Linked DNA regions of Homo sapiens: region 2 is linked to region 1. Evidence: fine-mapped expression QTL. A gene starts in region 1. The other region holds a variant in brackets. All regions are shown on one strand. Distances are between the middles of the regions. Region 1 holds the start of CTNNB1 (catenin beta 1). Region 2 has its middle 230 kb from the start of CTNNB1.

Region 1 (8,335 bases):
AAAGAATCATTTTTTTTTCTGAATACTTTGGAAGGTGAAAATGGCTTGTTTTAATCTTATCCATGATTTACTATAATTCTATTATTTTTAGCAGCTGGAGTCCAGAAATGATTTTTTCGATGAATTTAGGATTTTGCCGCAGTATACATCTGCAGTCCCAGAATCCTCCGGTAAGTTAATCCTTCTTGCGATGGGAAACGCCTTTAACCTTCTTGTGAATGAAATATCTGCAACCATTTTGAAATTTTTAATGGGGTGTGTGTGTGTGTGCACGTGCGTGTGTTGCGGGTGTGTGTCTCCGAAACATGATTTCTTAGAAATGCAGCGGTACTTGTCTGAGTTCTTAGAAACATTGAGAAACATATATACCTTTATGTTCTTTGAATATCATGGACGATGACTCCATTGCTTCTCCTTCATACTTTGTATGGTAGCCATTAAAATGTACTTCCTTAGTCTGGCAAACCAATGAAGGCCTCGAGTACACATAACTCCAAGCATGTAGGGTGTTCCTGACATAACTGAAGTGACCAGGCCATAGCAACCACCATGGCCATTGCCTCCCGCCACCTTCACCGCCCCTCCCTCGCTCTGCAGTATACATCAGCTGCAAGCTTTCCACAGTGGCTTTCCGCCGAACTTGCCCAGTGGGTTCCTAGATTACTTCTGTGTGCGAGAATAGCCAACCATGTAGTCTGACAAGAGGTATTTACAACTACTTAGCCTGTTCAGCTGGAAAGAAATCAAAAGATAACACTGAACCCTGAGATGATGTATTACAAATCAAAAGTCCCAATCCATAAATAGCCCACCTGATGAACTGCTAAATGAAAAGCTGATCCTGATTGTTGTCCAGTGTTTTTACATTGTCCTAAGAAATATTTTTAACAAGCCTTCTTGGAGAGTTGGGATTGTTTGTTTTTAAATGCATGGAATATTATTCTTACCTTTCTGCTGGGAAGGGAGCCTTCCGAGGGGATTCGGATGTAGAGTCCAAGTGAGACCACACCCTACTTTCACAGCTTTTTTTCTACCGTTTCTGCTTCTTTTTAAATAGGGTGGATTAACAGTTACAATTTTACATTAATTTAAGAGACTTAATCAAATGGAGCCAGTCATCCGTTTCCCTCTCTCTAAGGGAAGCTCATTGTCTTAGATGCTCAATAAATGTTTAATTAATGGATTTGATAGAGTTAAGTATCCTAAAAGTGAACGAACCTTCTTTACAATACTGGCATATTTCTGTGATTCATATTTCTGTCTGAAGTGTGAAATAATCTTGGCTTTTTTTTTTTTTTTTCCTCTCTTAAAGGTAATCAAAAGCCTCTGTTTTAGCGAAGGGATGCCTTACATTCAGGTTCAGTCTACCACTGCTTTATATGCCAGTGGCCTGATAGCGTGAAAAGAAATATCTTCTCTTTTAAACTAGCTGGAGACACTTTTGTTTCTAAGAACACAGCCTAAAAATTAGAACCACTTGTCTGTCGCCATTTTATAAAATTAATTTATGTCAAACCCGGGGTGACTGGCTCTAGAAGGAAAAGACATAAAACAGATAACCAACTGTTTTTATGAAATGTATTGTCCAAGGTCAATTCAAAAAAATTATTTAACAAAATTACTTATTTTACCAAACTCATGTATCTTGATAATGTATTTTTCTTTGATTTAATGATAGTGTTTGTCTTCATTTCACAGAAGTTATTCATCTCTTATTTTTGGTGAGACAACTAGAACAATTTCTGCTTTATGAAACATGCAAATAAAAATTAGGAGCAATGTTAAATTTAACTAACTTGGTTTAATGCTAGTCAACCAGTAATTCTTCAGTACACTTAATATGATGGGAAAAACAGCATGCTGCATTGTTGCAAATTTTACATTTTCTTTAATAAAATGTATTTGTTTACGGTGTCAGTAGGGATTAAAAATCATAATTCTAAATTTAAAGTATTTAAATTATAGAAAAATGATTCCATTATTTTGGTAATGGAACAGAGAAATACAAATATAGAAACGTTTTTATCCTTTAGATCTTCTAATGGTGCAGATATTTCTTAACCAATTTCAAGAGTGCCTTATTCAAAAACAAAAAACCTGCACATAGAAAAAGCAAACATGTTTTTTTAAAAAAAGCCCTGTAAAAGTGGTTAATCTGTCGTCTGATTTTCAATGTATGACTTTAATCAATTGCATATTCCTTAATTCTGCAAATGACAATTAAAATTAGGAATCAGTACCTGAAAACGCCATTTATACTTTTGAGTTTATATTAGAAACACGGTTTTGATGAAATACCTTTTTCGGTTCAATCTTTTTGAATTGTGACCACAACCAATAGCTACACTTAGATTCTACAGAATTAGTAGGAAAGATACAAATGAGAAGGTCTTTCTAGACAATGGATCTCACTGAACATCATCTTAGTGTGTAGACTTTTTCCACTGCAGTGGCCCACATGTGCTATGGTGACAGACGGCAGTTGGCATTACCACTTATATAGTAAAATATCTTTAAGACAAAAATAAAAGTTATTTAAAGAATACGCTGGCCCTGAAACATGAGCTGTGCCTTAAACTACATATCCTACCTCCATGAGTGAATGAATAAGTGGGTTTTCCGCCTGCATCTATGTGTTAAGACCTATTGTTTGCTTGTATTAATTGTAGTCCTGGGATAAAAGCACAGAGGTAACTTTCACTGCTGCTTTTTGTACTCTCTCCAATGTTTTGGAGGAAAAATAAGCACAAACAATAGCCTAGAGAAACTGAATCGATCATACTTGTTGCAGCTTCGACAAACGTCAATTTTGCTGCATTAGAATGGGAAACATTTTTCAGTCTATTGAAATGAATTACAAACGTTTTTAAATAGAAAATTAGTTAAAAAATTGGAGGCTGCTTAATCGATAGCTTTCTCTATAAACATACTTGGATTTCACAAATAAGTAATACCGTAAAAATCTTCTTCTCCAAAGAAAAATCCCCACAAATAAATCTATTGATACCTAGTGACAAGTGGAACCAGATAAAAATGGAATCTATAAGAATTAACCTAATTGACAGCGCTCTGGAGCTAATCCATTTCCATTAGTTATTTGTTCACAGTAGGTACTCCTAAGGACTTGTTGAATTGCGGGCTTGGCGCCCGTTCTACGGAGAGTTCACAGCCTTCGTGAGTGGGGACAGAAGGCGGCTCGGCCCGGTGATTCAGGTCGAAATTCAAGCTGAACAGCCTGCTGAGAGGTGGGATCCACCATCCGGACAGTGGGGGGCTTTGGGGGTGCTGTGAGACTGGGCTGCGACCCAGGTCCAGCAGGGAGTGTGCGGCACAGACCACAAGGTCGGCGAGGCCCCCTAACCCGCGCCCGGCCGGGAACCCGCAGACCAGCGACGGGGCAGCTGCGGGGCCAGGAGCGCCCCAAGACGGGCGGGCGCTGAACCCGAGCCCCTGCCGCCGCCCTGGCCCCGAACTTCCGCCCTCCCAGGACCTGTCCCGGCCGCCCCGAGCGGTACTCGAAGGCCGGGGCCGAGATGCCACCTTCCGCAGGCCGCGGGAAAGGCGCGCCGAGTCCTGCAGCTGCTCTCCCGGTTCGGGAAACGCGCGGGGCGGGGGCGTCGGGCTTGGGACAGGGGAGGATACCAGGGCCACCTTCCCCAACCCAGGCCGCGGGGGCCCGGCCTCCCCGATGCAGACCACAGCGCCCTCACGGGCTGCCCTCAGGCCGCGCAGCGGGCAGCCGCCAGCCGTCACCCCGGGGAGCGTCCGTGGGGTGCCCAGGCACCCCACCCCGGCCCGGGGCGCTCAGACGGCAGCAGACTGCTGGGCGGCGCGGGGACTACTTTCCACCGCCCCCTCGCGCCCCGCCCCTTGTCCTCGCGCGGCGGAACGCTCCGCGCTGCGCCGGTGGCGGCAGGATACAGCGGCTTCTGCGCGACTTATAAGAGCTCCTTGTGCGGCGCCATTTTAAGCCTCTCGGTCTGTGGCAGCAGCGTTGGCCCGGCCCCGGGAGCGGAGAGCGAGGGGAGGCGGAGACGGAGGAAGGTCTGAGGAGCAGCTTCAGTCCCCGCCGAGCCGCCACCGCAGGTCGAGGACGGTCGGACTCCCGCGGCGGGAGGAGCCTGTTCCCCTGAGGTGCTTGGGCGCTCCTTTCCTTATCCTTCCGGGGCTGCTCCCGCTTCCTCTCGGAGCCAAACTTCGTAGCAGGCGCGCGGTCCGGGCGGCGGGCTGGGCGCAGCCGGGAGGCCTGGGGTTGGGAGCGGGGAGCTCAGGTGGGGGACGGTGAGGGTGGGCCGCGCCCGGGGCGCGGAGGGCGGCGGCCGGGCCCGGGTTCCGGTCGCGCTGCCTCTCTGGGGCCCTGGGGGCATCGCTTGCGGGGAGGGGGCGCCGCGGGGGCGCGTACAGGAGCCCGGATGGCAGGCGGGGTGGGGGTGGGGGTGGGGGTCTGTGGTTTCCGTCCGGGGCTCTGGCCTTGGCCGAGTTTGGGGGAGGGACCCGGTGCCTCGGGATGCGCCGGGCCCTGGGTGGGGGGCGGGGTGGGGACGGGGGGCTCCGCCTTCTCAGCTCTTGCGGCGAGTTGGGGTTCGGGCGCTGAGGCAGAGACGCCACCCTAAGTCCCATCAGTCCTGGGGATCGGACCAGTGGACTTTCTCTTAAGATTTCCTCTTTCATTCTTAAGAATAGAAGTGTTATTATTTTTTTTAATGCCCTGGCTATGTGAGTTTGAATCGAAGCAACTTTAAACCTTAGAGCAACTAAACTCTAAGTGCAGCGGGTGCGATGCGTCAGTAGGGTGAGCACATAAAAAATCCATGTCTTGCACCTGTATTTTAGCGTACTATGCAGGTGAGTGAAAGCAGTGGATAATGTACTGGGAGTCTTATGGATTTATGGTAGTGGGTATGAGACCCTGGTGAAATAAGGGGGTGGAGGAAGGCGAAGGTGATGGCTTACTGTTTCTTACCAAGTGAACTGCAGGATTCAGCCTCTGACTCAGACCGCTTCGAGAATTTTGTTCGTAGAAATAATTTAAATTTATTCAAATAGTTTGATGGCAGCTAAAATTGAATTATAGAGCACGTTTTCTTTTCAGCGGAGTGAATTTTTCCTTCGCTCCAAAGCTGGCCAAATGGAATTCAAGCATTGCAACTTCTTTCAGTGTTTTGTCTGGAGAGAGGACTTTGAACCGAGACTTTTCGAAGTTAAGTTCCTATAGCCTGCTTCTGAATCTGCCAAGCTTGAAAGCTTTGGCAGTTGGGTGTATGTAGTTGTTGCCTTCGTTCTCTTCCCTTTTGGAGGGAGCGTTGTCTCCTACTTTGTATCTTCCAGACATCTGTGGTCTTCCCCCCACCCCTCGAGTTTGTGAGTGGTGAATGAAGAAAGACTAGGCTGCTGGTATGCAGAGGTCGGCAAAAGGAAATCGAGGAGTGGTTTTAGTGAAATGAGAGCTTTGTATCATGAATAATGGTGGCTTAGGCTAGACATCAACTTGAAGAGACGGCAGCATTTCCTTTCATAAAGTCTAGGCTAATGTTTTTCAGATCGCTAAGTTGTAGTTTGTCTGGAATTTAGGAAGCCATTTCAGTATTTGTCACTTGGTGAACGAACATTCAATACCTTCAGATGTCTTCGTGTTGACTTGTATTCATCCTAAGAAATAGTAAATATAGTCTCAAGTGTTATTTATGTTATACTGCTGGTTTATTCTCTGCTTAAATTATTGACATAAATTTCTACTTTGGAGGCTTTTCGTTTGAACTAAGGCTGTGCGGAATTTATTTTACTTTTATATTTAAATCTTTGAAAAATCTCTGATTAAAAAAAAAGTACCCTTAAAGGTTTGAGGATGTCCTTTCACACCAGACAAAATTTGGTTAATTTGCGCCCAATATTCATTACTTTGACCTAACCTTTGTTCTGAAGGCCGTGTACAAGGACAAGGCCCTGAGATTATTGCAACAGTAACTTGAAAAACTTTCAGAAGTCTATTCTGTAGGATTAAAGGAATGCTGAGACTATTCAAGTTTGAAGTCCTGGGGGTGGGGAAAAATAAAAAACCTGTGCTAGAAAGCTTAGTATAGCATGTAACTTTAGAGTCCTGTGGAGTCCTGAGTCTCCCACAGACCAGAACAGTCATTTAAAAGTTTTCAGGAAAAACCAACTTAAAAAAAAATAAGGTGGCTAATTAAAAAAAAATGAAGCATTTAACAGTGTTCAGGTTTCAGAGTATGGAAGAGGGGTTTTTTAAACTGTTATCTGATTATTTCTTTTACCAACATGATATAGAAAAGTGTATTTCCAGTATTAAAATTTATCAGACTGAGCTTACTGTTCCTGTTAATGACTGGAATAAAAATTGGCATAAATGAGGGTCTGTATGCTTGTTTTAATAACACCACCACCAAGATAGAAAACGAGGAGGCAAGTTTCTCCAAGGGTATTTTGAAATGTGTTAGCAAAACTATTGCAGATACTCGTTTTTGTTATAGGGTGAGGTGGGGAGAGGCGCATGCTAAGTATTGTTGAAACTAGGGATGTAGAGAATTAAAAGTTTGAATATAATTATTTTGTAGTTATAAGTAGCAGTGAAATTAAATCTCCTGCAATAGACTATAGAAGTATATTTAGCCAAATGAAACTTCAGTGTTATTGAAATGAAATAATACATCTGTCCTGTTACAAGATTATTTTTATTTCTCTTGTGGTTTCCTAGCTTCTGATAATCAATAATTGTAGATGAGTAGGTGGTAAGTTTTAAGTTTGTACTTTGAGCTTAGTCGGAAGCATGCTTGACTGCCAACCCGGGGCACAAAGGATGAAGGCTTTTAGAACTGGACAAACTTCTAACAAAAGGTATTTGCAACTCTTTTGTAGTGTGTCATGTTGATTTGTGACATTGTTTTTGAAAATATGTGTTAACTTAGTTTTCTTGTAGCCCTCTTTTTATTGGAACTGTGGTATCTATTGTTGAAACTGCTTGACTGAGAACATTTTTATACCATAAAAGTAAATAGTAAACATAGCCCAGGAGCGGCTTCTGGTTTGTCCATCGTATGTAGCCATTGCCTCCTTGTACTCTCATTGAGAAGATACTGATTTGCAGATTCAGTTGTCCTTCTCTAACAGACTATTTATGTAATATTGCAGTTGTGATTGTGATAGGTAAGTGGACCAGTCGGTTAAAATAAATACTCAGGTTTCACAAAAGGAAAATAATATGATTTGTGTTGATCTAAATGAGTATAGGAGTTAACTCCTATAGTTTTTCATCACTTAAACTCAGGGGAAAGTTCTTTATTTCCTCTGTTTACTTAAGAATGCTGCTTTTGTGTTTCATGCAAGACTGAGCTTGACTCAGTTTGAAACCTAGGCTCATCTGTTGAGGCCTGAACCCTGCTGTCCTTGAAGTATGCATATAATTTGCTTCCTTCCTAAGGAAAAATAAGCTCTTGAAAGATAAAGTCAATCACATTAGGAACCCATTTTTAGGGTTTAGCCACTTTTTTTTTTTTTTTTTTTTAACTCATGGGCATCTCTTCTGTTAAGAGACATTCCCCACTCTCCAAGTTTCCCTCAAGCCTGAAGCAGCAGAGTGAGTAGTGTTGGAGCATGTTTTCATTGCATGCTTGGGTCATGTTGAGTGCCCTCCAGTGGATATAGTATAATGCTTGTGATTTTTTTTTTTTTAATTCCAAACAAGTTTATGTGGGATATATTTAGGAATAGTTCTGATGAGGGAGAATCAACTAAGAAACCTTTGATTTCTAAAATAATTAATATCATTACTGCTAATTAAAATACAGGCTTGAGAAAATGTCTTCTCAGCCAATATTTGCAGTAGAAAAGTCGGGAGGTTTTTTAAGGTCACTTTGAGTAGGCAGTTCTGCTTAAATATATCATAATGATAAACCAGAATCTCAGTATAGTACTTTAGGAGGTAAAAGATCATAATATTCAGTTATATTGATGAATTACAGCAACTGAAATTCTCAGAAAAAAATTAATGAAAATGTGAATTGTCAATTTGTCTAAAATCATTCACAGAGTAAAACATAAGTGCTCAACTTGATTATATTAGGAAATAGATAGAAATAAAGGTAATTGAGCCAGTGTATGTGACCTAAAATATAATGCCCTTAGTGACCATAGGGTTGGTCTCATTTGTACATAGTGGTGGGCCATGATGAACTGTGTTTTGCCCTTTGAATTTTTCCTTAAAAAGCTTTCTCTAGGCTCCTATGTTCATGGTTTTTCTGTTAGTAATATTATTTTCTGAAAATCCATGTTTCAAATCAGAATCTAATTAGCAACAGGAATGAAGCTTATTCTAAATTAG
Region 2 (8,335 bases), 230 kb before region 1:
TTTAACTGTATCATCTATTTATATTCAAGGCTATTTTTGATATGTGATGGCTTATTCCTATCATTTTATTAATTGATTTCTGATTGCTTTATATGTCTTTTATTCTTTTCTTTTTACTTATTGTTTATCCTTGTGATTTTGTGGTTTTCTATAGTGGTAACAATTGAATTCTTTCCCTTCTTTATTTGTGAGTTTCTTCTACTAGTGGGTTTTATACTTTCATTATTTTTCTGATGGTAGATATTATCCTTTGACTTCCAGCTGTAGGACTCCCTTAAGCATTTCTTTTGGGGCTTGTCTAGTGATGATAAGTTCCCTCAGCTTTTGCTTGTTAGGAAAGACTTTATTTCTCCCTCATTTATGAAGAATAAGTTTCCTAGGTATAGTATCTTTGACTGGCAGGTTTATTTTGTTTTGGCACTTGAATATATCATTTTATTATTTCCTGTCCTATAAGGTTTCTGCTGAGAATCTACTGTTTGTCTGAAGCAAGTTCCTCTATAAGTGACTAGATGCTTTCCTCTTGCTGTTTTAAGAATACTCTGTCTTTGACCTTTGACAGTTTGACTATAATGTGCCATGAAGATCTTTTTAAATTGTATCTATTTGAGGATCTCTGAGTTTCCTGTATCTCAATATCTAAATCTCTTGCTAGACTTGGGAAGTTTTCAGTTATTATTTTGTCAAATAGGTCTTCCATCCCTTTCATTTCCTCTTTGCCTTCTGTTTATAGCCAAAGAAATCATATGAAGATTATACTACTGCATGCACCCAGAATCAAAGCCAAAGAGCCCTACCCAATCAACATCATATGTATCTTCAGAAAAAAGTTCTCCTCTACAAAAGCAAATTCAAAGAATTGGAAGAAGTAACTGTTACACAAGACGCACAGACAAAAATGTAGGAACACAAGAAACATGAAAAAGCAAGGCAATATGAAATTCTAAGAAATTCTAAACCAGAAATTTTTTTGATTGCTTTATGGTATTCTGTATGTTACGTAGGCTTTGTTCATTCTTTTTTCTTTATTGTTGTTTGACTGGGTTATTTCAAAAGTCCTGTCTTTAATTCTGACTTTTTTTTTCCTGTTCAATCTGATCTATTCTTGAAATTTTCAAATGTATTTCGCATTTTATTCAATGCAAAGTTTTTCAGTTCTAAAATTTTGTTCTTTTTGATGGTAGCTATCTGTTTTGGTATATTTCTCATTCAGAATCTGAATCACATTCCTGATTTCTTATATTATTTATCTGTGTTTTCTTATACCTCACTGTTTCTTTAATCATATTATTTTGAATTCTTTTTCCAGAATTTCATAAATTTTTTTCATTGAAATCTACTGCTGGAGAATTTTTGTGTTCATTTGGAGGTGTCATATTTCCTTGCTTTTTTCTGTCTCTTGTGTTCTTTACATTATCTGTGCATCTGGTGTAATAGTTACTTCTACCAACTTTTTGTATTTCCTTTTGTAGGGGAGGACTTTTTTCTGAACGTGTGTCTATGGTATTAGCTGGGTAGGGCACTTTGGCTTTGATTCTGAGTGCCTGCAATAGTGTGGTCTTCATATGGTTTATTTGGCTATAAACAGCATTCAGTGGTATTTGTGGCTTAGGGTGCAGTTGTTAATGGAGGCTGTGGTGAAGTTTTGCTGAGGATGGAAACACCAGGTAAATCAGTCCATGGGCTTCAGCAATGGCAGTGGCAAACTGAGCATTCCTGTCCTTGGGCCCTAGGGCAGCATACACTGGCATCAGTGTTCACAGGTTCAGGTGGGTCAATTCTTGGGCCCCTTGAGGACTTGCTCAGGTGCTAGTAGTTGCCATCATGGACCTGGTGGATGGGTGAGTAGGCTTCAGACCCTGAACAGCAAGCATGACATGGGCAATGGCAGTATCAGTGGTGGAACAACTGTCTGGCTCCTGAGCAGCCTGCACTGGTATTGCGGGTGGCTGCAACAGGATGGGTGGGCCAGTCCCCAGGCCCATATGTGGCATGTGTGGGTAGGTGCCAGCTGTAGTGGTAGTGACACATTGGGTGGGCTCAACCTCAAGCCCTCTGGAGGAGTGCTTAGGTATCAATGATGGTGGATGGGGTTAGGTAATCCTCAGGCCCCCGGGAAGCATGCTTGGGCATTGGAGAGGGTGAAGCTGGGCCAGGAGGACCTGGTTGCACATGCAGGTGCTGGCTGTGGTAGGCAGGGGTTGGGTGATTTTCAGGCTCTGGAGGAATGCTTACATGAGTGCAGGTGGCAGCAGCTTCACTGCAGCCCTCCTAGGGAGGGAAGGGTTGCTTTGAGTGGCAGAAGCAGTAGGCAGGTGGCTGGGGAGCATGTATTTCAGCCCCAAGCGGCAGTGGCAGGTGGGAGTGTCTATCCTCAGGGCTCATGAAAATGTGCAGCAGCTTGCACTTCAGCCTTGGTGGTCAAGAGGTTCTTTCGTGGCTAGGATTGCAGGAGTCTGTGTTGGGAATGCAGACCACTGGGGGTCTCTGACTTACCCTTTTCCTGCATTGGAGAGCCTCTCCATACTCCTAGCCAATCAGGCTGCCTTGCTTTCCTCTCCTTCCTTGCTTTAGGTGTTTCCTATCGCTTTCCTGTTGCATTCCAGTGTTCCCTCTTAGATGATCTATTCTAAGTGTGATTATCCACTCACTGTTTCAGTTCTTTGCAGAGGAAGCAAGTACCAGATGCCTCTAGTCAGCCATCTTGAAGCCTTGTGTCTATTAACTTTTATTTTCATTTTCAAACTATAAAATTCCTGTTATTTTCTTAATTCAACATGCTTTTATGAATGTAACAATATAAGCGTTTTAGTTCATATAGAGCCTCATTGTCCCAATCTTTTCTTAACCATTAGCCCTTCTAGCGATGTGGGTTTTTTTTTTTTTTAATGTAACCATTATGACTAGGGAAAAGAATATTACCCAGTAGTTTTCCCCTAAGTTAAACAAGAATTCCTTCTCACCCACTAAATTGAGTCACCCTGCTAAGGCCCCCATGAGCCCCTTTTCACTTTCTGTATTACTAAGCCCTTTGCCCAGCCTGACTAGATGGCAGCTATTTCCTGTGGGTCAGAGGGTTTTTAAGGCCTTTTTTGGAATTCTCCTTTCCTCTGGCTCAGGTATAAATGGTAATACCAAAAGGTAGTAGGTGGTATTTTAAGGAGACTGCTAGTGGACCTTCAAATGCTTTTCATTTCAAAACTTTAATTTTAATAATATTGCTCTCTTAGTTTGGGCTCCCTTAAAATCACAGCCTGAGACTAGACACAAGGACTTGGTGCAGGTGGTTTATTTGGGAGGAGATCCCAAAAAGCAGAGGTGAAAGAAAAGGGAGAGAGTGAGACAGGGAAGAATGAAAAGCCACTGAGTGTGCATCATTAAGGTTGCTGCTTTGGGCAACAGGGGCTCAATTCTTCTGTGACCTTTGGCAAGTGTGCAGAATGCCTTCTAGAATGTTCCCTCCAAAAGAGGAGTGGCTAGACTTGCTTACTGGCTCTCATTCTTCACTGGTTAGAGATGGCTCCTAGGGCGTTACCTCTCCATACTTGCAGGTTGTACTTGCTTGGGGGCTGACTGGGCTCCCAGTTTCAGAGATGGCTTTGAGGCAAAAAAACAGGGAAGCATTTTTCATGTTTCAAGAGGGCATTGTCATGGGAACCCACATTGCACTCTCTACCAGATCTGTGACAAAATCATAGGTGTGCTGAGGGGATTTGTTACAGGGTGCCAAAAGCATCAGCTACGAGCATATTGTCCCTTCTGAATAGACTGTTCCCCATTGTCCCTGTGGGGACACTTCCCCACCAATGGATCACCTGGTCATTGCTGTCCAGTCCACATGACATTGATGGGGAAGGTCACTGCTATTAGCCTCCCTTGACCGATGTCAGGGCTGTAAGGATCACTCTCCTCCATCTTCCTTCCAATCTAGCCCCTTGTCCATATCCTCCCTCTGTGGAGCTCACCTGTGTCTGGAAGGAGTTGTGCAACCTCAAGTGGCCTCAGTGAAAGCTGCAGTTGAAGAGAGCAATTCAGTTGACCACAAAGGAATGTGACAGAGAATCATCCAACGCTGCCTAGAACATCTCTCCTGCTCACCTCACCTGGCATGCTCACATGCAGCCATGTGGTCAGGGCAATACCGAGGCTGAGTTCAGTGCCACCCTGTGCTGCCCCTTGCCGGTGAACTTGTCACACTTGTTTACACATGTTTGCAGGCCTCTTTCTTATGGGCATCAGCAGCTTGTTGAGGACCATTCTATGTCTTCATTTTGTGCTCAGAACCTAATGTAGTGCCTGGACACAAAGGGTTCTCAGCAAACACTTGTGGATACAAAGGAGGGAGGGAGGGAGGGAAGAGGGAAGTCGGTTGCTAGGAGATAAAATGATTTGCTTATAGCACAGTTGCCAAAAATAAGTCACAAGTGGGGACTTCCCAGAACTAACCGTTCAGTGCAATACTTAGCTGAAATCTATTGCAAAATGCAGTACTTACTTAGGCACTTACTTTTGTCTTTATTGTTTTTTAAGAAAGAGATGCTCCAAAGGTCAGTGACTCAGACCACTAGGTGACTTGGCTGTGGTTTCCTATGAGTCAAGCCTACCAGACAGCAGAGGACAGAGGTGAACAGGAAACTGGGCCAGAGAAAAACCAGAGAAACAGAGAGTCAACACAGAC[G/A]TCAAGGAGGCTTCCGCCCAGCTCTCTCAGGCCAAAGGGGCAGACAAACCCGTGAACTCCCAGATATTCATGTCCAAGTGAATGCAGCTGTACGAACTTCAGCTTGAAAACTTCTCTCAAATAGCAGGTGGGGAGAACAGGTAGTAAATGCCTGGGGTTGTGGCCGCTTCCTTCCCCAGCAGAGCTCTGCCCCAATGAGAACACAGGAAGGGTAGATAAGAGAGCAAAGTGGGCAGTTTTTCTTATTTATTTGTTTGGGTAAAGGAAAAACAAAACAAGATGTGAACACGCATATCTTCACAAACTGTAAAATTTATCTCTGTCCTCTATTCCCTGCATCCTTCTCCCTACTCTAACATCTTAACAATCCTAATATTTGCCTATTGTTACACAAAATGTACGCCAGTAGATATCAACATACCAATTAAAAAAAAACGAAAAAAATACTTTGCTGTTTTTCCTTGAAAGCACAATGACATGAGGCATCTTTGGAGAGAAGAAGCTGCCACAATCCGATGCCTCCTCGTACCTGCTACTAGCTGTGTAGGCTTGTCTGATCTAGCCCCCTGGATGTGAACAAACTAGAGCAACAGGGAGAAGCAGAGATGCAAAAGAGTTAATCATACAAATTGCTGAGTGTGCACAGGAAAAACATACTACATTTGTAATTGTGTTTACAGTGTACAAAGCACTCTCCCATATTCCTCATAATCTAACAACAATCCTGAAATCATCACTATTTACGATGCAGAAACTGAAGGAACAATAAATGGCATGTCCTATGCCATACAGCTAATACCAGGCAGATCTTGGCATTGAACTAGAGCTGTCTGAGCCTAGACCAAATATTGTTTCCAGGATTCTGCAGCAAACTCTACCAACTAGGTACCTACAGCCTCCCCTAACCTGCCTTCGGTCTCCTGAGCAGAAGTGTTTATACCTCAGTCCCAGCATGCAATAACCGTAACAGGTAATAAGCACCTTGGAGAAACACCAACTGCATCCAAAAGAGAGCCTGGTTCTGATAATTCTGTTTCACTAACTTCTAGAAGACAGAGAATGAACAGCTTAGGTGAACATTTAGATGAAATTAGAAAAAAAAATGTTAAGGGAGTTGAGTATTTGTTAAAGGTCCTTGAACATGCAATTCTAAAAGAAAAGGAAGCTCAGAGAAAGACACTGGGATCTTCCAGAACTGGGAAGAGCCTAGGACCTGAGATACAAAGATCTAGAACCAGGGAAAGCAGAAAACTTCACCTACAAAGTTCCATGTGCTGCACTGGGCCCTCAGCCCACACACATGCCTAATTCTACATCTTGGCTCTCCAGTCTTCTTCACAGACAGCGCTTGGTGCCTGGGGCCTTTCCAAGAAGAAAGGTGTTATAGTGTAAGGCTCTGGTGCCAGTCATGTTGGACTGGCCTTGCTAACACAAGACTGTTGTAGAGAAGAAGAGGAGGTCTGGTGTGCCCCAGGGACCACCCCTTGGCATAGGCCACTGTAGACGCAGCATGAACATGCTGGGGTCAGCAGGGCAGCCAGGGCTCTATTAAAATTCTAGGCCAGTTGGCACAAAAAAGAGAATAAGAATAGGGTGTCAGTTGGAGCCCTACACACTGAGCTGGCCTGTGGTTTTAAATATCGTGCAAATGCTGACAAGTCTCGAAGGTATATTTTCAGCCCAGACCTCACTTCCTAGCTCTAGACTCACTAGATGATATCACACATTTGGATATATCATATTATCTCAAACTTAATTTGTTTAAAATGAAACCTATAACCCATTCCTCTCACCGAGCATCCACCAGTTGCTCAGGTGAGAATCTGGAATTTGTCCCTGAGTTTCTCTCTCCTTCTCACTCCCACAGTTAGTCCATCACCGTGTCCTATTATGCTTCCAAATTCATTTACCTCTTTTCACCTCCAAGGCCATCTCCCTAGACCCAGCCCCCACCTCCTCCTACCTGAATCCTTGAAATCACATCCTTACCAGCCTTCCGGCTTCTATTGTGCTCTGACAAGAAAGCCAGAATGGCCTTGCCAAAGCTCAAAGCAGACTGTCCTTCCTTGGGTCTAAATCCTCCAATGGCTTCAGAACAGAATCAAAACTCTAATGGGGCCAGCAAATCCCTGCGGGCTCCAGCTCCAGCTGTCACCAGCCTCACTTCAAACTCCTTTTTCCCTACTTACATTCCAGCCCCTTCTTCCCCTGTGACACCAAACCCTTTCTGACTTCAAGGTCTCTACACTGTTGTACCCTCTCCCTGGAATTCCTCCTCTCCTACCTTTTGTGGGGCTATTTCCTTCTTATCCATCCAGTCTCAGCATAAGTGCCATCTCCTCAGACCTTCCCAGAGGCCTTTCCTCACCATCAAAAGATGATCCTTCCTGTTATCCTGTCTCATTGAATCCAGCTGTTTTATTTCATAGCAAACATCATAATTTGCTATTATATGCTGATTTGGTTTTCTTCTTTAATATCTGACCCTCCCTCTAGACTGCAAGCTTCATGAGGGGTGAGACCATGTCTGTTCTATTTATCCCTGTATCCTGAGAGCCCAGCACAGGGCCTCGTATATAATAAGGGGTCAATAATAGTTATTGAGTTAATAAATAAATACATTTAAAATAAATACATAAAATAAAAATAATGAAAACTAATTTGTTTCTTGTTCTCTCAAGAGAGCTTCTGCCCAGACCACACCCCACCCCTGCAACCCTTGATCTTTCTCAGTCCACTGTTGGCTCTGAGCAGTCCACACAGTTTAATGCTACATCAGGATGAGTACGCAAAGAGAAGCAAGAAAATCCCTCCCTTGAACATGAGCCACAGCCCTTCCCATCATTCCTTCCTTCCCTCCTTTATTAATTTAATAGATGAGCCCATATGTAATAAACATAATCATAACATAATAATAACTACATTTATGGAGCTTCTACAATTTGTTGGGCACAGTCCTTTATCTAGATTTTCTTATTTGATAATCTTTGGAGCCCTATAATGCAGTTACTTGTATTTGTTCTACTTTACAAAGAAGAAAATCAAGGCTTGGTGAATTAGGTTACCTTCTCTAGGTCAGATATTAGTAACTGGCAGAGCCAGGATATCTGTTTGGTACAGTAAGTCTAAGGCTTCAACCAATAAACCACACCACTTTCCAAATGTTCACTGCTATTCAATGTACTTTAAGATTCATCCAACAACTATTGAGCCCCCACAGATAAACCAAGCATTGTGCAAAGTGTTTGTGTGCATCTTCCTATCTTATTGCCACAACAACCTTGTAAGATGGGTCTTTATTATTCTCATTTTTGCAGAAAGGGGACTGAGATCAGGATTGTTGAAGCACCTTCATATGGTTCTTTGTGGAATATCAGGATTTGATGCAGCTCCCTCCCTCTGAAGCCATACTCTCTGCATTCTTGCATATTTTGCTTCTCTTCTCAGAGAAAGAAGCAGGCAGAACCAGGACTTGTGCATGCACACACTATGATCAGTGGAGTATAGCCTATTGGATTAAACCACTCCCAGAGAAGCCCTATTGATCTTATACCTCAAGAGTGGCTCGGGAAAGCCATGGGACAGGGGAGAGGCTTGAGTTTTGAAGTAGGACAGATGTCCGTTTAATTCTTTATCCCTCACTAACTGGGTGGCCTT

The links. PIP is the estimated chance that this variant, and not a neighbour inherited with it, causes the effect.
Region 2: its variant is fine-mapped to the expression of CTNNB1 in visceral fat (GTEx, PIP above 0.99).

Annotation. Positions count from the first base shown.
Region 1 is chr3:41,195,537-41,203,871 of GRCh38, forward strand. It overlaps CTNNB1 (catenin beta 1), which reads left to right and starts at 3,969. Exons shown (of 15, transcript NM_001904.4): 1 at 3,969-4,134. RefSeq lists enhancers at 1-657, 3,672-4,618, 3,960-4,019, 4,730-4,839 and silencers at 3,370-3,829, 4,260-4,379.
Region 2 is chr3:40,967,268-40,975,602 of GRCh38, forward strand. No RefSeq gene overlaps it. Among named protein-coding and RNA genes, the nearest start is that of CTNNB1, 230 kb to the right of the region's middle. RefSeq lists enhancers at 1,506-2,006, 3,845-5,044 and a silencer at 4,337-4,386. The variant G/A (reference allele first, on the strand shown) is at 4,679.